Homo sapiens: one gene and its partners. The protein of the gene in region 3 purifies or fractionates together with the protein of the main gene of each other region. This does not show direct contact. Each region holds a gene or a part of one and is shown on either strand. Other genes may lie near its edges. The genes, in order: REC8, NIPBL, SMC3 and WAPL.

Region 1 (7,273 bases), on a different chromosome or scaffold from region 3:
GCAGTGAGCTGAGATTGAGCCACTGCACTCCAGCCTGGGTGACAGAGCAAGACTCTGTCTCAAAAAAAAAAAAAAAAAATTTGTGCAAGCAGCAGTGCATCGTTATCCTTGGCAAGTGTTGTGGTTGACAGAGGTGAACAGAAAAGATTCTTGATCTTAAGGAAGTCTAGTGGGGAGACAAGGTTGTATGTAACCCCACAAGAGTCAAGGCAAAGGGTAAAACAAGGCCCTAGCAAAGTACTGAGTTCCCAAACTGCATTTGGTTCCGGCTAAGACTGGGATAAATATTTCATAGAGAAGGGCAGCATTTGAGCCAGGTCTGTAAGAATATGTAGAACCCGACTTGTAGAGGATGAGGGGTGACCATTATGGGCTAGGGAAACAGTACAAGCAAAGATGTGAATGTGGCATCATTGAGGCATAAGGGCCAAACTAGTGTTTAGGAGCCACAGATGCCCAGAGGACTGAGAGAGAAGTCTGGGGATGACTAGTTCTAAACTGGGGTATGTGCCAGGCACGGTGGTTCACACCTGTAATCCCAGCACTTTGGGAGGCCGAGGCGGGTGGAGTGCCTGAGATCAGGAGTTCAAGACCAGTCTGACCAACATGATGAAACTCCATCTCTACTAAAGATACAAAAATTAGCCGGGCATGGTGGCAGGCATCTGTAATCCCAGCTATTCGGGAGGCCGAGGCAGGAGAATCGCTTGACCAGAGGAAGCGGAGGTTGAAGTGAGCCAAGATCATGCCACTGCACTCCAGCCTGGGTGACAGAGACTCCATTTCAAAAAATAATAATAATAGGCCAGCGCGATGGCTCACGTCTGTAATCCTAGCACTTTGGAAAGCCAGGGTGGGTGGATCACCTGAGGTCTGGAGTTCGAGACCAGCCTGGCCGATAAGGCGAAACCCTAAAAAAATTGGGCCGGGCTCTGTGGCTCATGTCTGTAATCCCAGCACTTCAGGAGGAGGAGACAGGCAGATCATGAGGTCAGGGGTTCGAAACCAGCCTGGCCAGCATGGTGAAACCCTGTCTCAACTAAAAATACAAAATCAGTTGGGCATGGTGGCAAATGCCTGTAGTCCCAGCTACTCGGGAGGCTGAGGCAGGAGAATTGCTTGAACCGGGGAGGCAGAGGTTGCAGTAAGCTGAGATCGTGCCACTGCACTCCAGCCTGGGCCACAGAGCAAGATCCTGTCTCAAAAATAATAATAATAATAGTAATAAAATAAAAAAAGAAATAAATGGGGCATGGAGAGCCCCAAATGCTAGTAATCTGTTTGCAGCAGGAGCCACTGTTCAAATGGGGAACCAAGGAAGGGGGTGACATTAAGCTGTAGGAGTATTGGGAATAGATGGAGGAGGACAGGGGTAAGAAAGCCCAGTGCAGAGAGATGAGAGCCTGGATTAGGGCCTTGGCAGTGAAAACAGTGTGGAGACAAGTGGGGACAAGAGCTGCCTCCAGTGGGGAAACCGTCTGATCAGATTGGCCCTGAGTAGGTAAGTACAGGGGGCTTCGCCTGGATGGGTCCACCTTGGCAGTCCCCCTGCACCATCTCCTGTGGGAGAGAGCTGTGGTAAGCTTCCTTCCCCAACCCCAATGTCAGAGTGACACAGGGACAGCACTCCCCTTCTGCATTGCCAATTCACGAGTCTTGGGGAATGAGCCCTACCTGAGGGATATCGAAAGGACTAGGAAGTCTGGGATCCACAGACATCATCCCAAAAAAGGGATCTGGAGCATCTTCTAGGGTCTCCATCATGGCCAGGTGGTTAGGAAGCAGCAGGCTGGGTCTGGGAGAGAATGTAGGCCGTGAAGGACTGAGGCTGAGCCAGGCTGAGGCCAAGCTAGCAGGTGTTCCATCAAAGGCCCAGGGCACACTCACAGCTCAGTCTCCATATCTATTCGGATCTGCAGCTGGGCACGGTGGAGGCGCTCCAAGATGTGCTGGATGTCCTCTGTGGGCAGGGAGGACGAGGTAGACAGCCAGCTTAGCAGACAGCTGCTCAGCCCGCCCCACCTTTGAGGGTTCCCAGCCTTACCCACGAGGTACTGGCATTGTTGAGAATAGACGCGGATCACACCGATCTGAAGTTGGGCTGAGAGATAGAGGGAGAAGCGGGGCCGCGGCAGGCCGGGCTGCGGGGGTTGCACTCGTACCAGCACGTAATTGAGGATTTCCTCGCTGGGGAACAATGCGCCCTGATTACCGCTGCGTCCAGGAGTGGGCCCACAGTCTTGGCCACCCCATCCCCTAACTCACCCCCCGCACCAGGCCCTCCTTCCCTTTTCTGGGCCTTACCAGGTTTTCACCACATTCACCCTCAGGTATTCGCGCTTCACCAACCGGCTGCCGCGAGTCGCCGCCAGCCTGAAGTGGGTGGGGAAGGTGGGAGAATGGGGATGGAGGGGGAGCTGTCAGGCTGGGATCCCGGGCAGCGTCCGCCATCGCGCGCCAACGGGCCCCGCCCTTACCAGATGGTGGCAAAGCAGCCGGTGTGGCGCTGAAGCACGTTGGGATAGTAGAACATTGTCCCTCTGGTCTTTCACCCTCGATTCCACCAGATCCCCGTTCGGATCTGAGTCGGAATTCTTTAGGGCACAGAATTCCCAACACCTTGGAGAGAAGTCAGGATTTGGACTTCTCTGGTGGCAAGGTGGGTGCACCTAGAAAGCCAAGTTAATGAGGCAACGAACAATGGGCAGATACACAATTACCAGGATAACTGAGACGCAGGAGATGGGCGCCCCTCTCTGTGGACCCTCAGTGGATCCGCACGCCACGTGATGCGTCAAACTTGAGACTTCTGGGTTGGGTTCCAGGTTGGAGATGCAGAGCTCCAAGGGGACGTCCGGGCCGGAATCCAGAGCAGGTCCCGAGGGAGCACGGTGTCCTCCACAGCAGGCCTCGGTCCTCGAGCGCTGGGAGCGATGTCAGGCCCCTGGGCCTTGCACTGGCTTGGGCGGCCGCGGTGTGGCCCCGGGCCGCCTACTGCAGGACTAGATCGCACCGCGGGAAGCGAGCGCTTCGGGGCACCGCACCTCGCTCCTCATTAGATGGCGGCTTTTGCCCTGACAGCCAATGGGGAACGGGGGTCGGGTCGGGAACGCCAAGTATCCTGGCAACAGGGTCTCCCGAGGCAGCCAGCAAACCAATCATAAGGATTTTGCGCGCCGCTGGGGTCCATTGTGAGGTGTTCCGACCAATGGGCTCCGGTTCTCGCCTCTAGTAACAGGCGCCCCTTCCTTGACCAATGAGCGCATCCCCGTCGCTCCCCCGCCGCTCCCCCGCCGCAAGCCTGGCAACAAGGGCGCCTCAATTGGTAGGGGAGGTCGGGTCACCTCGGGGGCAACTGTACTGGGCCTCTTCCGGGTGCCAAGATGTACCTTGCACGGCGCCTGACCTGAGGTTAGACCCCGCCCTTCCCCCAATCCACAAACTCCGACTTTGTTTCCAACTAGGGCGTGTCGTGTGCTGCAGAGGAAGAAAGATGTGAGATGAGGCCGGGCGCAGTGGCTCACGCCTGTAATCCTAGCACTTTGGGAGGCCGAGGCGGGCGGATCATGAGGTTAGGAGTTCGAGTCCAGCCTGACCAATATGGTGAAACCCCGTCTCTATTAAAAATGCAAAAGTTAGCTGGGCGTGGTGGCACGCGCCTGTAATCCCAGCTACTCAGGAGGCTGAGGCAGGAGAATGCTTGAACCTGGGAGGCGGAGGTTGCAGTGAGCCGAGATCATGCAGCTCCACTCCAACCTGGGCAAGGGAGCAAGACTCCGTCTCAAAAAAAAAAAAAAAAAAAAAGGCTGTGAGATGATGGCCTTGGAGCCACCACAGGTCAATGAGGAAGAAGTCCATTTTTTTTTTTTTTGATGGCCTTGGAGCCACCACAGGTCAATGAGGAAGAAGTCCATTTTTTTTTTTTTTTTTTGAGATGGAGGCTCTCACTGTTGCCCAGGCTGGAATGCAGTGGCGCTATCTCGGCAATCTCGGCTCACTGCATCCTCTGCCCCCCATCCCCTCAGGTTCAAGCGATTCTCGTGTCTTGGCCTCCTGAGTAGCTGGGATTACAGGCGCCCTCCATCACACCCAACTAATTTTTGCATTTTTAGAAGAGACGGGATTTCACTATGTTGGCCAGGCTGGTTTCTTTTTTTTTTGAGATGGAGTTTCACTCTGTCACCCAGGCTGGAGTGCAGTGGCGCAGTCTCAGCTCATTGCAGCCTCCGCCTCCCCGGTGCAGGGGATTCTCCTGCCTCAGGCTCCCGAGTAGCTGGGATTACAGGCGCCCACCACCACACCTGGCTAAATTTTGTATTTTTTAGTAGAGACAGGGGTTTCACCATGTTGGCCAGGCTGGTCTCGAACTCCTGACCTCAGGTGATCCGCCCGCCTTGGCCTCCCAAAGTGCTGGGATTACAGGCGTGAGCCACTGCCCCCAGCTGAAGAAGTCAATCTTACACGAAACTCCGAAAGGACTTACTGGGGTCACTTCCTAAATCTGAACAACTTAGGTTATGGGCACGCCACGTGTGGTCCTTTCCCAGCTGTCAGTGTTCTCCCGGCTGAAATAGACTTTAGCATTTTTGGATGCAGCACAACTTCCTAGCCTGGAAAAGCCATATTCTCAACAATTATTGTGTAAATTTAAGAGGTACAGTTGTAATAATAACCCTTGTCCCTATGCCTCCTACCTTTGCACAGCCATTTCTTTGGCCTAGAATGTCCTTCTCTGCCTTGACTCCAGAGCATGCTTCTTCCTGAGACTTATATCTTACTGCAGCTGAGCTGACCCTATCTTCTTACAGTCCCCTTCAATTTGAGAGTTTTTTTTTTTTTTTTTTTTTTTTTTTTCTGAGATGGAATTTTGCTTGTCGCCCAGGCTGGAGTGCAATGGACCATCTTGGCTCAGTGCAACCTCCGCCTCCTGGGTTCAAGCAATTCTCCTACCTAAGCCTCCTGAGTAGCTGGGACTACAGGCATGTGCCACTATGCCTGGCTAATTTTTTTGTATTTTTAGTAGAGACAGGGTTTCAACCATGTTGGCCAGGCTGGTCTCAAACTCCTGACCTCAGGTGACACCCGCCTCGGCCTCTCAAATTACATGCCTATAGTCACAGCTACTCAGAAGGCTGAGACAGGAGGATCGATTGAGCCGAAGGTCGAGGCTGCAGTGAGCCATGATTGCACTGCTGTGCTCCAGCATGGGCGATTCTGTCAAAAAAAAAAAAAAAAAGAAAGAAAGAAAAAAAGAAATACATGAAGTGGCCGTAAGTGCTATGAAGAAAATGAGGCAGCATAGGAGGATAGAATAATGACGGCTGCTATTTAGGGAGGGTACTCAGGGAAGCCTTGCCCCCTCTCTTAAGAGATAAAATTTGAAGAATGTGGGTAAGTCATGTGCCTACCTGAAGGAAGAGTAATTTAGACAAAAGAACCAGCAAATGCAAAGACCCTGAGGTAGAAATGTGTTTGGTGGGTTCAAGGAGCCTGGAGCAAAGTGACAGGGGAAGAATGGCAAGGGGCGAGAGAGAGAGAGAGAGGAGGGTAGGGTCGCATCACAGGACCTCAGAGGTCCTTATGGGGATTTGGGCTTTTACCCTGGGTGATTTGGGACCCACTGGAAGGTTCTGAGCAGAGGAGTGACATGATCAGAATTACATGTGAAAAGAATCTCTACTGTGTTGAGAATAGCTTAAGGTAGACACGTGTGGAAACAGATGTGAAGGAAGCAGAGGAGGAGACATGAGAGATGGTGGTAGTTTGTTCCAAAGTGTTGCTGATGGGAACAGAGAGAAGTGGTCAGACCCTGGATACATATTGAAGGAATAGCGAGCGACAGGATTTGCTGATGAATTGGATGTGGGGTATGATAGAAAACGGAAGGAGGCCAGGTATAGTAGCTCACACCTGTAATCCCAGCACTTTAGGAGGTCAAGTAGTTGGGACTATAGGCACACACCACCACACCTGGCTTTTTTTTTTCCCCCACTTTTTTTTTTTGAGATGGAGTTTCGCTCTTGATGCCCAGGCTTGGAATGCAATGGCACGATCTTGGCTCACTGCAACCTCTGCCTCCTGGGTTCAAGTGATTCTCCTGCCTCAGCCTCCCAAGTAGCTGGGATTATAGGCATGTGCCACCATGCCCAGCTGATTTTTTTTATATTTTTAGTAGAGATGGGGTTTCACCATGTTGGTCAGGCTGGTCTCGAACTTCTGACCTCAAGTGATCCACCCACCTGGGCCTTCCAAAGTGCAAGGATTACAGGTGTGAGCCACCATGCCTGGCCTCACCTGGCTAATTTTTAAGAATTTTTGGGAGCCAGGTGCAGTGGCTCACGCCTGTAATCCCAGCACTTTGGGAAGCTGAGGTGGGCAGATCACCTGAAGTCAGGAGTTCGAGACCAGCCTAGCCAACATGGTGAAACCCTGTCTCTACTAAAAATACAAAAATTAGCCTGGCATAGCGGTGCGCACCTGTAATCCCAGATACTCAGAAGGCTGAGGCAGGAGGATCACTTGAACCCAGGAGGTGGAGGTTGCAGTGAGCCAAGATTGCACTACTGCACTCCAGCCTGGGCAACAGAGTGAGACTCTGTCTCAAAAAAAAAAAAAAGAATTTTTTGTAGAAGTAGGGTTTCACTATGTCACCCAGGCTAGTCTCAAACTCCTGGGCTAAGGCAGTCTTCTCACTTCGATCTCCCAAAGTGCCAGGATTACAGACATAAACCACCACGCCCAGCCGAAAAAAAAAATTTTTTTTTTTTGAGATGGAGTTTTGCTCTTTTTGCCCAGGCTCGAGTGCAGTGGTGCAATCTCGGCTCACTGCAACCTCCGCCTCCTGGGTTTAAGCGATTCTCCTGCCTCAGGCTCCCAAGTAGCTGGGATTACAGGTGTCCACCAACACGCCTGGCTAATTTTTTGCATTTTTAGTAGAGACGGGGTTTCACCATGTTGGCCAGGCTGGTCTCGAACTCCTGACGTCAGGTGATCCACCCACCTCGGCCTCTCAAATTACTGGGATTCCAGGTGTGAGCCACAATGCCCAGCCAAGTTTTTGTTTTTAATCAAAATAATTAAAATAAAATGGAAGTCAAGGAGATAATTTAGACCTTGTACAAAGAAGGTCCAGGAAGGATTTCATCACATTGCATCACATTGAGGGCACAACAGGGTTTGTACACCTCTGCATTCAGTACCTCATTTCTTCACTGCTAGTGCAGAGAATGTCTAGGTGCTTGGCTTCCCAGTGGGATGATGGACAAGACTGAAG
Region 2 (6,964 bases), on a different chromosome or scaffold from region 3:
AAAAAGGCATCCATGGGAAAAGAACTGTTCATTTCTATAATTTTAACAAAATAGATAATCTATGTTGAATAAAATCCATAAATACTATTTCCAAATTTGATTAAGGTATTTACTTTGAAAACCTGAAACAGGAACATATTTACAGTGTTAAGTGATTTGATAATTTTGTAGTTCTGCCCTAAAAATCAATATCCTTAATTAACCCTTCATCAGTTTCTTAAGTCATCTGTCATCCTGAAAGCAAGTTAATTATTCTAAATGTTAAATAATTTTGGTAGTGTCTAATCTATAAAACATACATACACTACCAGTTTTTTTTCTACCTTTAACAAATTCGTTCCCATAAAAGACAATTTTATCACTAACAAAGGATAACTGGCAGGCATAAAATAGTGAGTAGAAAATGATTTTCTAAAATTTTTCATTTCTATCATTTTATAGCAAGTTGCATTTATCTTAAAGATAAATATTCTTCAATAAAAATAACAATTCAAATTTTTCAGTTGTAGAAATTCCTGGTGATGACATTTGATACAAATAGTTTATCCCTGAAATCCATTTAAAATTTTTAATCAAATCTTCTGCAATTCATTGATCAAGAATACATACGAGACTATCCAGGGATATTTCTAGCAAAGAAAACTGAGTCATGCAACTCAGTTCTTGAAGCAAGGAGGCAATTTAAAGTCAGAATAAAGGTTTACTGGGCTATCCTCAATGGACAAGTGGAGGATGTAAGTCACCTGATTTGGAACATAAAAGACTTAAAAATGTAAGAGCAAAACAAATGGATGGTATTGGGAAAAATAATTATTAAGAAAAAAAAACCCAAGACAATGAAATGAAGAAAACACTAATATTAGATTAACAGATTCTATGTAAGATCTCAACTTGGATACTTAAATTTATGCAAGCAAAATACCATTTGATTTAATAGAGAAATACTGTGATATGAATTGAAACAATTTCTTTGATTCTATAACCTGGAAAAAAAATGGTATAAACTATATACAAGTTAAAACCCTCAAAGGCAGTGTTGTTTTCATTCACTGCCATGCATGAGATGTCTAGCATAAAGCTAATTAGCGCCTAATAAGTCCTCAATAAGGGAAGAAACTAAAAAAACTTAAAAATTTTAAATTAAATGACACAATAATGCCAAGACTTTCCAAAGCAGATTGACTGTAGCAGCTGCAGTTACCTGGACATGCAAAATTACTAGTTTACCAGTAACATTTAAGAAAGCAGACAAGAAGATAATTGTGCTTCTATTAGCGAATTGAAATAATGGTATTTTGAAACTGAGTGAAAAACACATTCTGAGTCATCTGTATTAACTTAAAGCTGTTCTGAAGATTAATGGGAAAAATAATAATGAATAGACGATTGGATTTACTAAACAATGTTTGATTAATTGTATTAATGGTTATAAAATACCTATCAAGGCTGTCTTTTCTTGTCCAAAAATTCAATACATGAAATATGAAAATTTGTAATACCATAGCCAAAGCCTTATTGCATAGCTTCTAGCTTACTGATATATTTACTTATTTTAATTTAAAAAGCCTGTTTTTCCAGCCACTAGGAAATAAGATTTCTCACGTTTTATAGTACTCAAAAATCATGATTAAGTATATCTAATGCTAACCTAAGTGTAAGCAAACAGCAAACTAAATGGTGAATTAAAATATCCACACCAAGCCTGACCTCAGCTTTCATTGAACCTTTTCTTCAGAAGAAAACTAAAAATAAATTTCACTAGCATTTGCTTTGCTTGACAGCATAATTGAGTAGCAACCAAAGTAGCCACATGTGGTCCTTTATGTAAGGCCTTCTAGCCTCAGAAACACACACCTTTTGAATTAGCGTGCCTGGTACCCATTTGTGCCCAATAAATACTTGCTGAATGAACTTTTCCAATAGTGCTGGATTTGCTCTGAGCCAACCAAATTCTCACTTTTAATGTATTTTGAAAGACAGAGGACGACAAGATGAAGAATGCAGTTTGAGACTCAGAAGAGCAAACATAATCGGCCCAGTATGGATATGATCATTTGATGCACTGTCCTCGGGCATGCTCATTTACAGAAGCCTAAAAACAAATTTTATCCCTCATTTGTGGGTTTCTGGTGTTGTGGAGGGCTTTCCAATGTTTAGAAGCAATATATTTTTATAGAATTCTGTAATAAACGTGTTTTAAATCTTTTATAAAGCTCTCTGTAGCATATAAGTACATATTAAAGACAGAAATGGGGGAGCATCAAGGCCCTTATAATCGCATTCATTCCTTAACCACATACTACGCATCTACTGTGTGGCATTCTAGGCGGGGGCCGTAACACCAGTGCAGAAAAACACAACCTCTTGTCCTCTTAGAGCTTACATTGCACTGGGGAAGGAGAGATAAGAAGATAAACAAGTATGGATATGTAGACTGTCCAAAGGATAAAATGAGAAGGGGGCTAGGGAACTTTCAGTTTAAAAGTAGCCGCGGAAGCACCGAGTGACACGAGCAAAATCCTGAAGGTGAAGGAGCAAGCCCTGTGGACGACGCTCAGGGAAGAGTCCTACTCGCAAGGATGCCAGGGCAGGCCCGCCCCCACCCTCAACGGCGCGCGGGGACTTCTGCCGCAGTCAAGGCTTTGGCTCACTCCCCTCAAGACGGGAAGCCATTCGCAGGGCCTAGAGAAAAGGAGTGACAGGATCTTGGCCCCCTGAGTGGCCTGAGGCAAAAGGAATAATCTAAGCAAGTTTTCCTACTTACTTTTAGCGCACTGGTACACACACAAATACACAATACAATTCATATAACACGAATTTCGTCCCGGTTGAGTAAAATTCCGCTTACCTACTGCACTTTTTACCGAAAATAGCCCCTTTTTAATTTACACAAACTTAATAGAGAACGGTGGAACAATGGTTACTTCTTGTTTTACAATTTAAAAACTACAACAACCATAGTACTGTACGTATAATCACATATTGTATTCCAGCCTTGTCCAGCGCCTCAGTTTTCCGAACCTAAAGAGGAAAACGATGTTTGAAATCAGCTGGCCGCAGGCCCGCGGGTCGCCCGCAGTCACCGGTGGCTGAGTCGGGGCCGGCGGTTCTCCCCGCGCGCTCGGCTCCACCCACACCTAGAGGGGGGCGCCCGGGCAGCCGCGGGCGAGCTTCTCGCTCGCGCAGCGTCGCCTACAGGCCTTTATCCTGACCGTTAGAGAAGAACCCAAACCTCTGCCGACAAAAAGCAAAAGCAGCGGAGACCGCGTATTTCCAGAAATAAACGCATCATCACAAACACGATTCCAATTCAATCCAGCCGACAGTCGTCTTCACCTCCAAAGGTTGCGTTCTTATTCGCAGAAATAACACGCAGTCGGGCGTAAGGTCCCGGCTCTCAAAAGGCAAGGTGTACGATCCATCCATCCACCCGGCTGCAGGGACACCATTTAAAACGGGCATCATCGCCATCGAATCGCGGGCGTCCTCTGTGGGGCCGCCCGGAGATCGGCTCCCTAAAGCTAACGACGACCTGGGACAGCCAGCGCGGCCTCCAGCCGCCGCCGTCGGCGACCTGAGAGCCCGTCCGGGCCTGAGTGCCCCCCACGCTCACGACCACCACCGAACTCGGGCCCCGCTCCTGTCGGCCTCCAGGAAAATAAAGACAGAGGAGAGCCGGCCCGCCTGTGTCGCAGGGCAAACGTCGCTCTGAAGCATCGACAATACTGGCAACATCCACAGCCGCCCTGAGGGGACGGGCGTAGAGGAGAGCTGCCGCCTCCCGGCTGCTGGGCCCGGGTGCCGCGCGGCGCGGCCGAGGACGCGAGCCCAAGTGGCGGCAGCGGCGGCTGCGGCGGTGGCGGAAGTGGAGTGGGGAAGAGGGGGTGGTTGTTAGTGTTTGGCGCCGGCGGAGGGAGTCATTCCTGCAGCTGCACTTCCGGTCGGCATTTTGTTCTGAGAGGGAGAGACGGAACGAGAGAGAGACACACACAGGGCTCCTTCCCCCCGCCCTCCCCCCCCTCCCTCCGTCGGTACCGACTCACCCGACACCACCAAGCCGCAGGGAGGGACGCCCCCGCCGACAGGAGAATTGGTTCCCGGGCCCGCGGCGATGCCCCCCCGGTAGCTCGGGCCCGTGGTCGGGTGTTTGTGAGTGTTTCTATGTGGGAGAAGGAGGAGGAGGAGGAAGAAGAAGCAACGATTTGTCTTCTCGGCTGGTCTCCCCCCGGCTCTACATGTTCCCCGCACTGAGGAGACGGAAGAGGAGCCGTAGCCACCCCCCCTCCCGGCCCGGATTATAGTCTCTCGCCACAGCGGCCTCGGCCTCCCCTTGGATTCAGACGCCGATTCGCCCAGGTAAATTCCTGCTCTTTATTTCGGCGGCGGCGGCGGCGGCGCCGGCGCCAGGTCCTCAGCGTCTCTCCTCCTCGCTCCCCTCCCCGCCGTTTCCTTAGCGGCCCCAGGTCTCTTCCACAGGCGAGTCTAGAGTTCGCTCCTCTCTGGTGGCAGCCGCCTTGGGTAGCGGTGGTTTTGTACCCTCTCCCGGCCGGCTCCGGTGGCGGGGACTGGGCTCCTGCTGGGCGGCCGGGGAGGCGTAGGCCCGGCGGAGAGTGCAGGCCGCGGGCCAGCGGAATCTACTTGAGCTCGGGGATTAGGAGAGCTCCGGGCTGAGCGGAGCGACTGCTGGTCGGTGACAGGCCTCGCCCGGGAGTGGAGCCGTAGCTAGTGGGGAGGCGGAAACAATACAACTAACAGCAAATGTGCCCTGATCGTCCCCATATTTACAACTTTCCCGGTCCGGGAGTGGGGAACGTCCCAGTGAAACAAACAACCTCCCTTCTTCCCCCTGTGACCCCATGAAGGGAGGAAGTAGTTTCAGTTAGTGAGACAAACGTAAATACTCAGACGCGGATCCAGTGGTAATTCTTTCTCTTTCTAAAACTTGTTTGGACGTTGGAAAGTTCATAAAGACTCATTTTCTTTTTTAAAGAATTAAATCGTCCACATGAATATTTAATACAGAAAAACATACTGTGGTAGACACTGCACATCTCCCCCTCCCCAAGAGCTTTTATCTTGTTGTTTTGACAGTGTGTTGTTGCACATGGACTTTTTATTCAAAGACAAGTATAAAGTACTTGACAGGTTTACTCTGCCACTTTCTATTTGTATGCGTTATGTAAGGGCAGTTTTAAGCGACTATACGTAAAACACTCAGGTACTTCCTGACCAAAACGTGTAGGAGCATACAAAGAATTTTAAGTGTTCTGAGAATTGTGCTGAGATACGGGTAAAACCACTTTTCTTTTCTTTTTCCAAAAAAGAAATTAAGTTATACTTAAAATCCTTGGGAGGTTAAAAAATTGTAGAAGGTGCCATCCTTTTATGTCAGGGCAGTTCTTCTTGAGGTCCCAGGATTGTCATTGGCTGTTTGTGCCATGATGTTTGACTGTGTAATGAGAGAGGTGTCATTTTAATAGGTTAAATGTATCTGTAAATGCTGGAGAAAAATATCAGTTCTAACTTGACAAGTTCTAGTTCATGAGTAAGTTAAGTGTTTCGAGCTTGTTTATGGAGGCGTTCATAATGTAGGTTGGTATAAGGGGGAAACACCAATTTAAAATTCCTCAGTCAGGCAAATTGCTAGAAAAGTGTACCTGGGTTACACGTTTTGATATTTTGTTTCATATTCGCTGAAGGAAAACTTTCATTGGTTAAAATGAAGCAGCACTGCTCAGCGAAATCCCTTGTTTTACTAGTGTTTGTTACATTGGTTCATATTTTTTGTGTCATTAAATTATTGTCACTGTAGAATAAGTTATTTTGTGGAGGTTATTTTTGAGTTTAGCGTCCTGATTACAATAAATTGTTTCACATTTCCTGCAAACGTACGGATAAATGTTTAAAAGAATGAAGTTAATATAGCTGTCACGTACTAGGCATGTTTTTAATGCTATAAATCCGTGTAGTAGTCAGTAGCGTGTCCGTGATTTGTATTGGTCAGGGAGCAGTTTGAATTTTAAAAAGCCTGAAGCTCCTGCTGAGCCCCAATCCCGGCCTCCCTCCCTCCCACTAATCTCCCATTCCTGTCTTTGTGCTGCCTGCTCCTGTTAGACACTGTTTGCTACGGGGCCTCAGGCCTACTGCGGGTGGGGGGGTGTGCGAGTGGGGGGCATGCCAGGGAGGGAATGCAGACGGGAGGAATACTTCACATCTTAAGAAAGCAGAGGGTTTGTTTTTTTGGGGATGGAGGTGGTAAGGGCTTCATTATAAATGTTTAAAAGGCCTTCATATATTCCTGTGATTGTCTCTACAACTTTTATTTCAAGGGATAAACATATTTTTACTAAAGATAATAGAGGAGTTGTGCTTGCTTAATTTTCACGAACTGAAGCAACTTATTTTTAGAGGTTGTCTTATGCAGATGTTTGAATAAGTGTGTTAGAGATGGGTTTATGTGATTGATTCTTTTTTTTCCTGAGACTTTGGAATTGTTATAGTGAATTAGTTCTTCCCAACTTATTTTCCCAATTCTACATATTTAGTAATTTGTGAGTAATATAGGTTGTGTGATAGCTTTCATTATGATAGCATAAACATTTCTTTAAATTTAAAAATATGTTTTGTTTGGTCCAAACCAATTAAATACGTCATTTTTAAAGGAGAAAACATTGTGTAAAATTCAAATTGTAAAATTTAAACTTGAACTTTAAATCTCTGATAACCTAGTTGGAGAGAATAGTTTGTTTCCCTAAAGAGTGTAGAGTGTTCTGCTTCCCCTCTGTTGGTTGGAATATTCACTAGTGGCTAATCATCTATTTCCATTAAAAATTAAAATTCAGTGAAAGGAGAAATCAGAAGTGTTCCAGTAACCTTATAATCCTAGTTATATTATTTGGAGAAATATTTTCTCATACACCTAAAGGAAATTTCAACAATGTCGCTTATTGTTTCTCTTAACTCT
Region 3 (7,775 bases):
AAAATGTAATCATTCTAGCTAGTAAGTTACAGATCATTTATAAAATCACACAAATGAAATATTAAGGTACTTATTTTAAGGTGCAAGTTAAAGAAAACAGAAATCTAATAATTCTTATTTTTCTACATTTCTAAAGATTTTCTGATTGATGAAAAAAATCAGAAAGTACTTATATGTAAGCAAAACCCCAGTACAATTAAGCCACCCTATGGCATGTCAATTCAATTAAATGACTTCAGTAGACAGAGCACAAGCAGGGAAAAAAAAAGTATGCCTTCTTTATTCCCAACTACAAGGCTGCTATTGATAAATCGAGGGCAAAAAAACCTGCCTTCAATTTTATCATTTTATACAAAATGAAGTATGATTCTCTAAAGGTCTTCTGGAAACATTAGTAATGTGAATCTCACCCACGCACCACAGACTGAATTGAACTGACACCCTGAAACAACTGACACCTTAATCCCGAATGTGATAGTATTTGGACATGGGGACCCCTGGAAGATGATTATGGTTAAATGAGGACATGAGGATGGGGCCATGTGAGCACACAGCAAGACAGCAGCTGTCCATAAGCCAGGAAGAGAGCCTCACGAGAACCTAACCATGCAGGTATCCTGATCATGGATGTCTGACCTCCAGACTATGAGAAAAAAAATATCTTGTTTAAGCCACCAGTCTATGGTATTTTGTTATGGCTGCCTTAGCAAACTAATACACCACTTAGTTTGGACTCTGTACAGCAAAACTGTGTCAACAGCAGTCTGTGTTTCTGGTGTCCAGAAGCACTCCTTTCATCTATCCTGTAAAATACTCAGCAGAGTGTCAGAAAACATTTTTGTTAGCTGTATCAGCAAAATGCACACTACAATCTGAGCAATCTATAATGACTACATATTGTTAATGGCAATCACCATTAGCTCTTTATCTTCACACTTACATAAGGTTTCTCATTTAATCTTCTCAACAGCCCTATGAGACAGGTATCATCTCCACTTTACAAATGAGAAAACTGAAGCTTCTCAGAAAGTGAAAAAGAACGTGTGCCACAACTGGGATTTTTTTTTTCGTTGTTGTTATACTAGGATACATGTGCACAACATGCAGGTTTGTTACATAGGTATACATGTGCCATGTTGGTTTGCTGCACCCATCAACTCGACATTTACATTAGGTATTTCTCCTAATGCTATCCCTCCCCCAGGCCCCCACCCCCCTATAACTGGGATTTGAACCCCATTCTGTTATGCTCCAAAGTTTATGCTCTTCCAATCTAGCTACATGGTCTGTCCTTAGAGACACTGACTGCCGGGGTGGGGGGGGAATCCTGGCATCTACTTTGTGAATAAAAATTGTCTGTCTCTGAAATAAGGCAACAGTCAGCATTTTCACTAGGATATATAACAAGAACAGAAGAGCGGAAATGCTTTAAAACACTCTTACACACACATACAAGGCTACCTAGATAAAAAATGGATAACTTATGAGTGTCTTATCCAAACATTTTAAGTTTATAAAAATAAGCAATTCATCAGTGCAATAAGACAGAAAAGTTATTTCACGCAGAAAAATATAACTTAATATTCAAAGACAATTCCTGTCTCCTTAAGCCAATATAGAAATGGACAGAATTTACATTATCTGTATAGACTATAAATATGACCGAGTAAACCAAGAACACTTACCAATCACATTATGTTTTGAACTGAAGGGATCTACAATTGTTTGATCTCTGTAACTTCGAAAACCCTGGATAATCACCTAGTAAATAAAAAACATTTTTGAGAACCCACCCCACAAAAAAAATTAACATTTTTCTCTTGCATTTCTTTCTTGTTTTTCATTTAATGCAATATAGAAAACTCGAAATTTCATATAAGAAAAATTCATTTTGGAAAGTGGTGATTAAAAATCTGCTAAAAAAAAAAAAAGGTACTTTTATCGGTAATCTTTGCCAAGGCAATGCTGCTGGGTTTTATTTTTTTTTAGGAGTTATGCTGTCAACCTGTTAAGGACCTTTCAAAATCAAAAACACTGTGTGAGCTTAACTGAACCCTAAACGCTGCAGTACAATAGCAAGTCTATAAAAGCAGGCCGACGGGCCCCAGCTCTCCTGACTCCAAGACCACCGAGTGCTGCTTTCAGTCACTCACGCCGGCCAGCCTGAAAGAACCCACGTTCCAAAGAAGGAGTGCTCAGAGCCCGACAGACCCAACAGAAAACCGTCTCCAAGGCCGTGTGCCTGGGCTCATCTTTGTGGTGGAGTCCCGCGCGGGAAGACCATTTTGACAGAAGTAAACAACCGAGGGAGGCGGCGCTCCGTATCCTGCAAGCAGGAGGGTCCCGCTCACTTCGCGGGTTAACTGGGGAGAAGAACGGCTCCCCGCAGTGACAGGTGACGACACCCCAGCCAATGCCCCCAGGGCCGCCCCCGGGCCGGGGAAGCCACCTTTCCACACATCCCAGGCACATGGGCCGTGTGAGGCCACCCCTGCAGGACCACACAGCCCTTCCCGCCCGCGGCCGCCCCGGCGGGGTGCCCCCCGCCAGCTCTGGGGCCACCCAGGAAGGCCCAGTCCCTCCCAGCGGCCCGCCCGCCGGCCCTTCCACACCTCTCGGAGATCCTGCCTCTCCCAGACAAGCGCCAGCAGGGAGGCCGGGGCTGCAAAGGAGTGCCCCAATTCTCCGCGACCCCGCAGCCGGGGCACTAGCGGGACCCGGGTCTCCCTCCTCCCCCACAGTCCCCGCCCAGCCCTGGTCCAGCCTGTGGAGACAGGGGAGAGGCTGCGGGTGGCGCCGCAACACTCCCGCCTCAAGGAGCGGCCCTTACCGGCCCATGACGGGGTGGAGGGACGCGAAGGCCTTACCTGCTTTATGTACATGATTCCGGGCCCCTGGCCTGGAAGGAGACCTGCCCCGGAGCAGCAACCGCACGGCCGCAGGGTCAGGTGAGGCGCCTACGCGACCCCTCCCCCAAAGCGCCGCTCGCTCCCCTCAGCCAAACAAAATGGCGGCGCTCGTGGGGGCGGAGTCCGCGCCTCGGACGGAACCACCTTGCAGCCTTCACAGGGCGTAGGAGGAGTCAAGTTCAGGTCTGCTCTTTCTTTTAGGCAAAACCAGTCCTCCACAGCGTTTTTTGGTGGATTTCTTTTGAATCTAGAATTCTGTAGCTAACGCTTTCCTGAGACTTAGTCAAAAGCTTCACTCGGAAAATCTATGACCGTAGGGTTGGTCCGTACCACCTCCGAGCGCGGGGCCAATGGTCGCGTCCACAAAGGGGGAAAGGTTCCGCGCCAAAGCCAAGAGGGAGACTCCGAGGGCCAGTAGCGCCGCGGGCTGTCGGCCACGTGATTCCGCGCTGTTTAAAAAAGCGGACCTCGCGCGCACTGTGCTAGCCTTGGAACACATGGAATGCTGGTGATTCTTGGAATTCTGTGTGCGGAGTCACTGCTGCCCCTTTGTTATCGCTCTCCATAGGAACGTTTACAATCTTAGCACGCCCCAAGCTGGTTACGAATTGCCCACTCGGAGGACAACCCCGAAGGGATTTGTCAATGCTCGAAAATTTGTTTTAATAATGTGATGATTAATTCCGTCGGGAACTGTTTCTGTTCTACCATCTGCTATAAATCTAGGCAGATCTGTACAATTGCAACAAAGATTTAGGTAAGGCTGAAAGCTTTTAATCCACTTTAAAAACAAAAGAAAACAGCCTGAAAGATACTAGGTGCTAGTGGCAACCCTAGGTCTGTCTGATCCTTGTCAGTCTTGGGAGAAAAACATCATTTGTTTAGAAAATGAATCTCTGGGCTGCTCTGAAATTACTTGCTGGGAAGAGAACAAAATAACTACCCAAATCATCCCCAGCCCCACCCCCGCCCGCTGCTGGAGACAATTCTGGCCCTAATTATTTCTAGATTGAACTATTTTTAGTAGCCTCCTAACTGCCTCTGCTAACCAGGGTATCTCCCTAGGAGTCCTTTATCTGGAGCCCGGATCAAATCCTATCCAGCCCTTGGTTTAAAAAAATAAATAGGCCTGGTCGAGTGGCTCAAGCGTGTAATCCCAGCACTTTGGGAGGCTGAGGGGGGAGGATCACCTGAGGTCACGAGTTCAAGACCAGCCTGGCCAGCATGGCGAAACCCCCGTCTCTACTCGAAATACAAAAATTAGCTGGGCGTCGTGGCGGGTGCCTGTAATCCCAGTTAGTCGGGAGGCTGGGGCAGGAGAATTGCTTGAATCCAGGAGGCAGAGGTTGCAGTGAGCCAAGATCGCGCCACTGCACTCCAGCCTGGGCAACAGAGCGAGACTGTCTCAAAATAAATTAAATAAATATGTAAGCATTTTCTTTTCTTTATTTCTAACTTTTTTTTTTTTTTTTGACAGGATCTTGCTCTGTCACCCAGGGTGGAGCTGGAGCATAGTGGCTCGGTCATGGTTCACTGCAGCCTCAAACTCCTGGGTTCAAGCCATCCTCCCACCTCAGCCTACAGGCTGTGGCCACCAAGCCCAGCTTTTTTTTGTTTTTGTAGAGACCAGGTCTCCTTATGTTGCCCAGGCTGGTCTCTAACTTCTGGCCTCAAGCGATCCTCCCACCTCTGCCTCCCTAAATGCTGGGATTACAGGAATGAGCCACTGCACTCAATCTAAACATTTTACTTCTAGATTTTAGTTGTATTATTTAAAGCTTAGGACAGGTATGGTGGTTCACGCCTGTAATCCCAGCACTTTGGGAGGCCCAGGTGGGTGGATCACTTGAGGTCAGGAGTTTCAGAACAGTCTGGCCAACGTGGCAGATAGGATTATCTTATACATCCTGTTTGTAATTCTAAATATGATGGAGTTTTATCATCTTCATTTTATAGACTAGGAAGTGGAGGCTCAGCATGGCAAAACTCCGTCTCTACTAAAAATACAAAAATTAGCTGGGCGTGGTGCAGACGCCTGTAATCTCAGCTACTCAGGAAGCTGAGGCAGGAGAATCACTTGAACCCAGGAGGCAGAGGTTGCAGTGAGCCGAGACTGACACTGCACTCCAGCCTGGGTGATGGAGCGAGACTCTGTCTCAAAAAAAAAAATTCTAAGCCTCCACTTCCTAGTCTATAAAATGAAGATGATAAAACTCCATCATATTTAGAATTACAAACAGGATGTATAAGATAATCCTATCTACCTAAAATTGTTTATACATATGTAGGCAAAATATGAAAAGATGGTGACTAAAACATTTGAATGGCTTTCACAGTGATGGGAGTTTTACTTTCTTCCTTAGGCTTTTCCATATTAAATGAAGCTTATACAATTAGCTTATATAATTTATATAGGCAGAAAAAAAGATCAGCGAAAAACCTAAAATAATCAAAAGGTGATTTTGAGAATGTAATGCTTTTATTTATATTTATGTATTTATTGTCTATCTCTGCACGAATATAAATCCAAGAGAGAAGGGACTTCATTTTGTTCCTGCTGTTACTTAGTAACTAATTCACAGAAAGTACTCAGTATATATTTATGAGTGAAAAATGCACAGAAGCAAAGTACTTACCACCGTGCAGGGCTTACATATGCCAGCTACTGGTGTTTAAAAGCTCCCTATGTCCCCATTCCACCCACCTTTCATCCCCCTTAGGAGCATCATTCTCTTCTGGTAAGTACGTAGGAGTCGAACATATTGATCTCCTTTAGCCAGGATAAATAGTTATTCAAACCTATGAACTATCTGGAAGCAAAGGGACATTCCTGAAAGAAATTGCCACCATAAAGCAGAATGCCAGCCGCACAGTGCCTACTAGCTCATAGCTAAACAACGGAGAACTGCAGCCTTGAAACAGTGCCCCAAAGAGTTAAAGAAGTCTGTGACTAACAAATTCTTGAGTTTGCAGGATAGCAGATGAGAAAAGAAACAACTTGCTGAAACTCCCTCCACTTGTAATATTAAAAAACTGACTGAAATTGCTTGCAATCAACATGACTAACTGGAGTTTGTGCAGAATGGTTTGCTAACATCACAGCCTGAATTTCCAGTGCATGGTTCATACAAACTCCCCGAGTTTGACATATGATCCATGTGGTGGCATGAAGAGGTAACTGTGCATGCCTCAGCACTTTCTAGACCTCCGCTTTCCTTCCGCCAATCACCTACTAATCCCAGAATCCACCCATGAATTTTTTTCTAATAAAATTACTGCTTTAAACCTAGCACAGAGAGACAGATTCGAGCTGGATTCCTGTCTTTTTAGTCAACTTGCAATAAAAAGCTTTTCTTTTCTCAAAAACCCGGTATCATAGTATTGGCTTCTAGCACATCAAGCACTGAGCCCTTTTTGCTTGGTAACATCATTTTACATCTAAACATCCCATTAACAACACATGGCATCACCTCCTCAGTGTTTTTATTTCTCTCCCCCAACCCCACCTCAGATTGATTCAGCATGATCACTTAGACACACTGGAGTGGGAGGAGGGGAAAAAGAGACACTAATCATAAGTCTCTTTAAGAAGGGAGTCTCTAATGCTCAAAGCACAGACACACAACAATCATAATCCCGTATATTTGTGTAGCTCCTCACCCAGCTTCAAAGTGCTATCATGTGTATGGTCTGTCTTAGATTTTTCTCACTGATGCTGTGAGGAGCAAGGGTACTTATTTTGCATTGGGTTGGAAACCCAAGGGTCTTATGCTGACTCCATTTGACAAATTCCATGAGTTGGGACATGTCATTTTACCATGTGACTTTCTGTAGATAAAATGGGAATATTCTCTGCCTTTCCAGGCAGCAAAGATGCAGATAGACATTTGCCCCAACAGTCAGTGGTCAGACTTTGGGAGAGCCGGGTCACATCCTGGCTCTATCACTTGCTGATGTATGACCTGGGGAAGATTAACCTCCTGAAGCCTGTTTCCTCATCTATAAGTAAAGATTTTAATGATATCTATGGAAATTTCCTTGCAGGTAAATTAGGATGATTTATTTAAAATAACTGGCACAAGACATAGTGTTAGCTATTTTTGTTATTAGTTCATAGCCAAACTTGTAGTCAGCAAATCCCTGGGAAAAGACAGCAAAGAGCTAAACTGAAAGATCAAAATGCCAGGAGAAAACTGACCAAACACTCTGGGACCACCTCACCCCCCATTATTCATTCATTCATTGAACAGATATTTACTGATTACCTCTAGCATGAATGTGTCCTAATAGCGTTGAGGAGAAAGAAACTTTTCCTCTGCCCTTTTATGTTTATGGGTGAGGTGTGGAGTGGGGGGAATCCATGAACATAAGAGGACAGGAGCTTAAGGCTTGGCGGCGATCGCCTGTAGTCCCAGCTACTCCGGAGGCTGAGGTGGGAGGACGGCTTGAACCTAGGCGTTCAAGGCTGCAGTGAATCATGACTGTGCCACTGCACTCCAGCCTGGATGACACACTAGCAAAAGAAAAAGCAGATTTTAATCACATACGTACATGTGGGAGTTCACAAAGAAATGTGACTCAAAAGGGCAGTTACAATTTGGGGCTTATATAACCCAAATGGAGTTTGAGACCAGCCTAGCCAACATGGCAAAACCCCATCTCTGCTAAAAATACAAAAATTACCCAGGCATGGTGGCCTGCAACTGTAATCCCAGCTACTAGGGAGACTGAGGCAGGAGAATTGCTTGAATCTAGGAGGCGGAGGTTGCAGTGAGTTAAGATCACACCACTGCACTTCAGCCTGGGTGACAGAGTGAGACTCCATCTCAAAAAAGAGAAAAAAATCCATTTTGACTGTGTGCTCAT
Region 4 (7,052 bases), about 24 Mb from region 3:
TCTACTAAAATACAAAAAATGAGCTGGGTGTGGTGGTGTGCGCCTGTAGTCCCAGCTACTGGGGAGGCTGAGGCAGGGGAATCGCTTGAACCAGGGAGGCAGAGATTGCAGTGAGCCGAGATCGCGCCACTGCACTCCAGCCTGGTGACAGAGCGAGACTCCGTCTAAAAAAAAAAAAAAAAAAATATATATATATATATATATAATATATGTATATAATTTTACATGAAAGAAGGAAATAAATGGGTGCTTTTATTCAACAAATATTTATTGAGCACCTACTCTTGTGCCAGGCAGTCTTCTAGGTGCTAGGGTTGCAGCAGAAAACAAGACAGGCAGAGATCCCTGCCTTCAGAGGGAGCACAACATTTAAGATAAACATGCAAAATGCCTGATATGTTAGATGGGAAGATAAATGCCCTTAAAGAAAGTAAAGCAGGGACAGTGACATTTAGGAGTGAGGATGTTGCAACAATTTAAGATAGGTTGGTCAGGGGAGATTCATTGAAAAGTCCCATCTGAGTGAAAACCTAGAGGAGAGAATTGAAGCAGGCTGGTATCTGGGGGAGTTGTAGGCAGAGGGAATAGGAAATACAAAGGCCCTAAGGTGGGGAAACAGCAAGGAGTCAGGTGTGGGCAGAGCAGAAAGTTGGGGCTGCATGAGCAAAGGGCAGGGCCTGGCCCACATCTCGTAGAGCTTTGTAATATAACCACAACATGCAAGTGTACAATTTAACATTTTATTCCACATCCGATGGCAAAGAAAAATTGACTGCTACCAATATGGTAGTTTCTGACCTGTAGTTCCCTAAATAGAATTCTATAAGTTGTAATACACTTTACTACACATTATCAGAAAAAGACTAAAAGTTCTATTTAGTAACTCCAATTCTGACAGTTCTCATGTCTGGGCTAGAACAAGGGCATGGCAATGGCAGAACAGATGTCTTCTATTTTCTTTGCAGGATTTTCTTTTTTCAGAGGAAAGTACAGGTATGGGCCCACTCAAGTGGAGCTCCAGGTTAGGGGGTTCTGTCCTCACCCAGGCAGCACACAGGAGGGCAGAGGCCCCTCCTAAGGGTACTACAAACTTGGCTCTGATCCATGATTTCAGTTTCTGACAAACACAACATTCAGTGGGGGAAAGAAAATCAGGTATCTGAGAGCTTGCACACAGGCATTCTAGCAAAACCAAAAGCACCTACTGGCTACTTGATGTTAGTGTGAAGATTCTCATGAAATGGAGACAACCATTCTAGGGGTTGAGGTGGCCAGGGGGATGGAGCCTGAGCTGAGAGAACTAAGAAAACAAAAACAATACAACAAAAAGCTGTTCAGCCATGTGTTACCCACACTGGAGTTCTGTTTGCTCATTCTGGTGTGGAACCCAGGGCCCTGGTAAGGGAATGAGGGGACTTCAGGGCATTTGCTTGCCTCAGTGGAAGCAGGGAGGTAAGGGGTTAAGGTGGTGGTACAGCCTGCAGGGCCAGGAGTCTGAACTCCCTCCAGGAGGGGCCCGAGGGGTGTCTTTAGTGTGAGCCACACAAGGGTACAGAGCCCAGAAGAGCTCTGCTTAATATTCATATACTAAGCTTCCACAGACTAAATACACACACACACACACACACACACACACACTCACACACACTTTACTTCTCAAATCATGTACCACTTTCTACCAGATTCAAGAACACCAAGAAGTACTAAAGGGTATCCAACCGTCAAGAAAAAGTTTGACTCCCTCATTAGTTGTAACATACAAGTCTTCCCATTTCCTTACTTGTAAGATAGAGTAATGGACTGGGAAGCAGACAAGGCCCCTGAACAGCCTAGCATCTTACCTGATGCATAGGAGGTTCTTAATCATCTCCCTTCCTCTCCCTCATCCTAACGAAAAATACTAGATTGCTGTCAAATGCTATGGGTATACTTTAAATCAGTGCTTGTCAAACTTTAATGTGCAGCCCAATCAGCTGGGGGAATCCTGTTAAAATGCAGGTTCTGATTCAGTGGAGCTGGGGTGAGGGATAGGAATTATGCGTTCCTTACAGGCTTCCAGGTGATGCTACACTGCTGATTGGGGATCATTCTTTGAGTGGCAAGAATTTGACACTACTAAGTTTCATTACTTAACACAACCATCACATAAAAGCCCTCAAAAGGCACCAGTCTAAACAATAAGCCCTTCCACTTCAGCCTCATGCAGGCACTGACCCTGCCAAGTGTCCAGCACTAGAGAGGCCAGGCATAATAGACATATCCTTTGGTCTTGGGAGGATCACGACACCCTCCTACAGGAAGATCTTGCAATTGTTTCCTCACCTCTTCTGGTTTTTTGATCTTACCTTTTGCCTCTGATGATAATTACCCTTTAATTACCACCCACCACCTTGTCATCTAAATAATTATAGTAAGTGCAGCCTGCACCTCTGCCAGAAGATCTTTAAACAAAATGATAAAAACAAGTTCCTAAACTGCCAATTAAAAAAAGAGACAAAACTGACCCAAATAAAACAGTCATGTGCATCCCACCCACAGTGGAAGACATGGACTTGTTTTTCATATAAACTACAGAAGAAGTTGATTTATTTTGAAACAAGAAAAAGTACTGATTCAGTATTTAGGAAATTGTAAATGTCAGAATATAAATTCTGCAGTCAGGTAGGCAAAACAATCCAACCACACTAAAATCCACCTTAAATTCCTCTTGGGAAGAGCTGCAGGGTCTCTGAACTATTTTTCCTTTATTTGGAGTTTCCCCGATTATACCGGAGGGAGCTGGATAACTTCTGGGTGCATTAAAAGCAAATTATCCATTTGTGGGAGAAGGGCGGGCTTCTCACTGAAAGCAATTAGTAGTTTTCTAATTTCCCAGGTGGGTCTCCATTAACCGCCTAACAAACACCAAGGCTGTCGGAGTCCGACGAATCATGCACCTCTCTTAGGGGGAACTGGTTGCGCTACTCTTTAGAACGCTGTTTTCCCATGGTAGCCTTAAAAAAAACTTACCAATTTTCTGAATTAGGTAACACATTGAATGGGAAAAACCTAAGATAGCACAAAAAGGCGTACAGCGAAAAATTAAGACTCCTTCCTCCCGTCATCCGCCACCTCACTGTCCTCCCTAGAGGCAATCGCTGGTTCACTTCTTTAAACTTTTTATTATGGAAAATTTCAGATACACAAGTAAAGAGACTGTATGATGAGCACATATGCTCGCATCACGCAGCTTCAACGATGAAAAACGTTCTGCCAGCTTGTTTTATTCCTCTCCCCCAGTTTTCATAGGCGTATTTTACAGTCCTGACACCAGATCACTCTGTCAACACATCAGTAGGTCTTAAAAAAAAAAAAACAAAAAACCATAACCACATTACCGTTACCACACCCAACAAAGTTAATGATAATTGCTCAATACCATCCAATATTCTCGGGGCCACTTTCAATCGGTGAGGGGCAGACGGACTTAGAGGAAGGACTGCAGGGCTGGAGGGGCGCGAAAAAGCGAGGGGCGACGCTGCTCGTGGCCTCGGGTGTCCGGCGCCTCGCGGTCCCCGCCATCGTCACCTACGCCGGGCCAGGACCGACCAGGCCAGGTCGAGGGCGGCTCTTGACCACGCGCCCCCTGCCTCCCAGCTCCCGGGCGGCGGCCTCCGCAGGCCCGGCACAGCTGCACAGCCCGCGGTCCCCAGGCACCGGCGGGTCCCTGGAGGGGAAGCGATTGATACAGCTGCCTGCACTGCGCCACCCGCCCGGCTGCCCATCTCCGTGGCACCTGCGTCTCCCGGCTGGGCCGGGAGCTAGAAGTGGCTGCCGAGACCGGGAGGGCCCGGCCAGTCGCCCGCTCCCGCTCCCGCGCCTGGTCCTCGGCCCGCGACCTCGCGGACCTGGACTACAACTCCCGTCGGGCTCCGCGGCCGGGCCAATGGCGGGCGCCGGAGCATGCGGGGCGCAGCGCCTGCGCGGCGGTTTGAGTAAGCGGCTGCGCGATTGGCTGCGGGGTCGGGCGGCCGCGCGGGGACTGTGGGAAGCGGAGTGACGGAGCGAGCGGCTGTTGGAGGAAGGAGGTGGGGGCCGGGAGCGCAAATGGCGTTGAGATGGTTCAGGGCCCTGTTCAAACTCCAGCACTGACCATTCACCGGCGGAAGCGGCGGCGCAGGAGGCGGCGGCGGCCCAGCGGGGGCACACAGCAGGCTCTGTTACCAGCTCCAGCAGTGGCGGCCAGCGAGAGCTAGGCCTGGGCCCGGCCGGCGGCGCTCGAGGCGGGGAGGGAAGTTGCGGGGCCGCCGCTCCTGCCCCCCCAACCGGGCTTCCTATTTACCGAAAGCAGAGTCCCTCGCCTCTCTCGGCTCTCACCTGCCGGCCCTGCTCTCCCGCGCGAGGGTTCCGCGCCCGCCCGCGGGCCGTAGGGAGCGGGAGAGGCGGAGGCGGCCCGTGGCCAAAGCACCCGCCAGGCTCCGAGGGTAAGTGAGGTGTCGGGCGGCCGCCTAGGCCGGGAGGGAGCCGGGAGGGTGGGGGAGGCAGAGGCTGGGAGCGGGCGGTGGAAGTCTCACTGCCTCGCCCACCGGGCCGCTGAGGAAGTTGGGCAGGGGAATGACCTGAGGAACTCTTTTTTTCCCCTTTTATTTTCCTTTTTCGGAGTTCTTTTTCGGGCGACTGCTGATTGACTTAGCTCCCCAAACCCAGTCAAGTGTGTTGATTTCAGCCCCGAGTCCTTTCCCGTGGTTTCATCCGCCTCTGGCCGCCACTGGGGCCTTGCACTGCCTTAAGGATTCGGTGGCAGAGGCTTCCGGGGCGTCGAAAGTGACCTCCCTTTCCTGGGCGGCGCGGGTTGGGAGGAGAAAAGTTGCATTGAGTGTCTAGTCCGAGGGGTCCATCGCGCCCACTGCCCGTGGCGCCCCGGCTGTCCCCAGGTGAGGATTTCTGGTTAGTCAGGTTCGTCCCGTCCGCTTTCCATCTTTAATGGAAGCCCTTAAAGCCTTTGGGGATCGGGAAGACGCTAGATTAGGGTGGGAGTGAAGTATAAAGGCTTTTTGCTTTTTTTTTTTTTTTTTTTTTTTTAAATCACAGCGCACTTCTCTCAAAATTCGACCTGATTTTGGGCTAGGGCAAAAGCCGAACGACCGAAAAGACTTAGTCGTCAATCATTCTTTCCTTTTTAGTTAGGACAGTCTTTGGAGTTTAAAGGTTGAGCAAGATTGTGTACTTGAAACACTTAAAATTTAACTTCAAGGACGTCTGCACACTTATTTTGGAATCTGTAGTGCTTTACGCTTAGATAATGCCATTGCAAAGACATTTTATTGTGGGAAACGATAAAGGCAATCAGGAGGAGATATTATATAATGAACTTCTCTGTACCCATCGCTTGGATTTAGCAGTGACTATTAAACAAATTTATTTCATCTATACACTTCTCATTCCTTAATGTTGGAAAATCGCTGACGTTATTTCATCAGTATTTCACTATGTATTTGTAAAAGACGTGGTCTTTTGGCACAAAATTATTATTATCATTATTATTATTATTTTGAGACGGAGTTTCGCCCTTGTTGCCCAGGCTGGAGTGCAGTGGCGCGATCTCAGCTCACCGCAACCTCCGCCTCCCAGGTTCAATTGATTCTCCTGCCCCAGCCTCCGGAGTAGCTGGGATTACAGGCATGCGCCACCACGCCCGGCTAATTTTCTATTTTTAGTAGAAACGTGGTTTCTCCATGTTGGTCAGGCTGGTCTCGAACTCCTGGCCTCAGGTGATCTGCCCGTCTTGGCTTCCCAGAGTGCTGGAATTACAGGCGTGACCTGCCGCCCCCAGCCAGCACAAAATTATTTTTTATCACATAAAATAATTAAGTCCTTAGTGTCAGGTATTCATCTGAAGACTTCAAACTTTCAACAGTGAATGCTTTGTGGTTATAGAACCATTTTAACAGTTTTTCTGATGTTGGCATAAAGGAACTCAAGTCTAGATTTTTGGTTTGGCCTTTGGTTAGTATTTTTAGATGATTAGCACATAAGTGAATCCAAAACATTCCATCTTTGTTGGTGTGTATGTGTACGTACACTTACAGACCTGCAGGATCTCAGCTTTACATTCTTGAAGGAACAGAGAATCGATTTTTATTTTGTTGTCCGTGGTAGTTGCCCAGTATCCTGTTTTGTTTAGGCTGTACTTAACAAGAAAGACAGTAAGACTTGTTAGTGTTAGAGCTGCAGTGGAAGATGAAATACATCTCCTTCAGGAACACTGTTTTCTCTTAACGCAGATATGTATGATGACTAAATTATTACCTTGTCAAATTAAAATTGGGTTCTCACCAAACATGGGGGGGGGTCTACTACTGAATTTATATAAAACTCAGACAGTGACTCATTATAAATGGTAAGAATTTAAGTTAATCAAGGGAAAACAAGTGTAGATCAAAACATATTCAAAAGTATAGGTCAAATATAATTTCAATTCTTGTAGCTTTCAAAGTAATGATTTTTCATTCCTTAGGCCCTTGTTCACTTTTTAAAGTTATATTCGATGTATTCATGTTTGAACTGTAGAAAGGTCAAAGTGTTAGACAAACGGTTACTGATTGATCATGTTTAAAAAGTACTATAACTTTTTAATAGGCACAGAACTAATGCAAGTAACTTGTTTTAAAAAATGTTTGACTCTTGATTTACTGCCCTAAAGATTTTTTTTTTTGTCCTGTGAAGTAGATAAATCAGGTGAATCGATTTGCCATTTATAAATTGAAAAGGAAAATAAAAGTTGTATGTTTCTATGTCTGTATTAATCCATGAAACAGTGTAATATGCTGGAGCTCACTAGCCCCAGAAAATATAACTCAGCAAATGAGCACAGCACTATCGGGACAAGGCAGATAGGATAAGGATAGTTTCTTTCCCTAGGGAGATGACCATCTAAGGAACATTTTTAAAGTCACAGCGCAAATTACATTACACCAAGAAGCAGAATCTTCAAGATTGGGTTAAAAGCTGCAGGTTGTAAAACATGAGAAAAAGCACCATTTTGGGGACCTTTTTTCTCATGTGAATTAGTG

What was found.
Region 1: the proteins of SMC3 (region 3) and REC8 purify together in Homo sapiens (affinity purification with mass spectrometry; 3 studies listed by BioGRID and IntAct, with this or other methods). This does not show direct contact.
Region 2: the proteins of SMC3 (region 3) and NIPBL purify together in Homo sapiens (affinity purification with western blotting; 4 studies listed by BioGRID, with this or other methods). This does not show direct contact.
Region 4: the proteins of SMC3 (region 3) and WAPL purify together in Homo sapiens (affinity purification with mass spectrometry; 7 studies listed by BioGRID and IntAct, with this or other methods). This does not show direct contact.

What each region holds. Positions count from the first base shown.
Region 1 is NC_000014.9:24,167,813-24,175,085, reverse strand, and holds the start of REC8 (meiotic recombination protein REC8 homolog), read right to left. Parts: upstream 3,007-7,273; 5' UTR 2,534-3,006; coding exon 2,478-2,533; intron 2,374-2,477; coding exon 2,305-2,373; intron 2,188-2,304; coding exon 2,045-2,187; intron 1,961-2,044; coding exon 1,888-1,960; intron 1,796-1,887; coding exon 1,675-1,795; intron 1-1,674. UniProt on the Homo sapiens protein: Required during meiosis for separation of sister chromatids and homologous chromosomes.
Region 2 is NC_000005.10:36,872,823-36,879,786, forward strand, and holds the start of NIPBL (nipped-B-like protein), read left to right. Parts: upstream 1-3,946; 5' UTR 3,947-4,356; intron 4,357-6,964. UniProt on the Homo sapiens protein: Plays an important role in the loading of the cohesin complex on to DNA. Forms a heterodimeric complex (also known as cohesin loading complex) with MAU2/SCC4 which mediates the loading of the cohesin complex onto chromatin.
Region 3 is NC_000010.11:110,562,924-110,570,698, reverse strand, and holds the start of SMC3 (structural maintenance of chromosomes protein 3), read right to left. Parts: upstream 3,005-7,775; 5' UTR 2,883-3,004; coding exon 2,868-2,882; intron 1,762-2,867; coding exon 1,686-1,761; intron 1-1,685. UniProt on the Homo sapiens protein: Central component of cohesin, a complex required for chromosome cohesion during the cell cycle. The cohesin complex may form a large proteinaceous ring within which sister chromatids can be trapped.
Region 4 is NC_000010.11:86,518,776-86,525,827, reverse strand, and holds the start of WAPL (wings apart-like protein homolog), read left to right. Parts: upstream 1-4,035; 5' UTR 4,036-4,463; intron 4,464-7,052. UniProt on the Homo sapiens protein: Regulator of sister chromatid cohesion in mitosis which negatively regulates cohesin association with chromatin. Involved in both sister chromatid cohesion during interphase and sister-chromatid resolution during early stages of mitosis.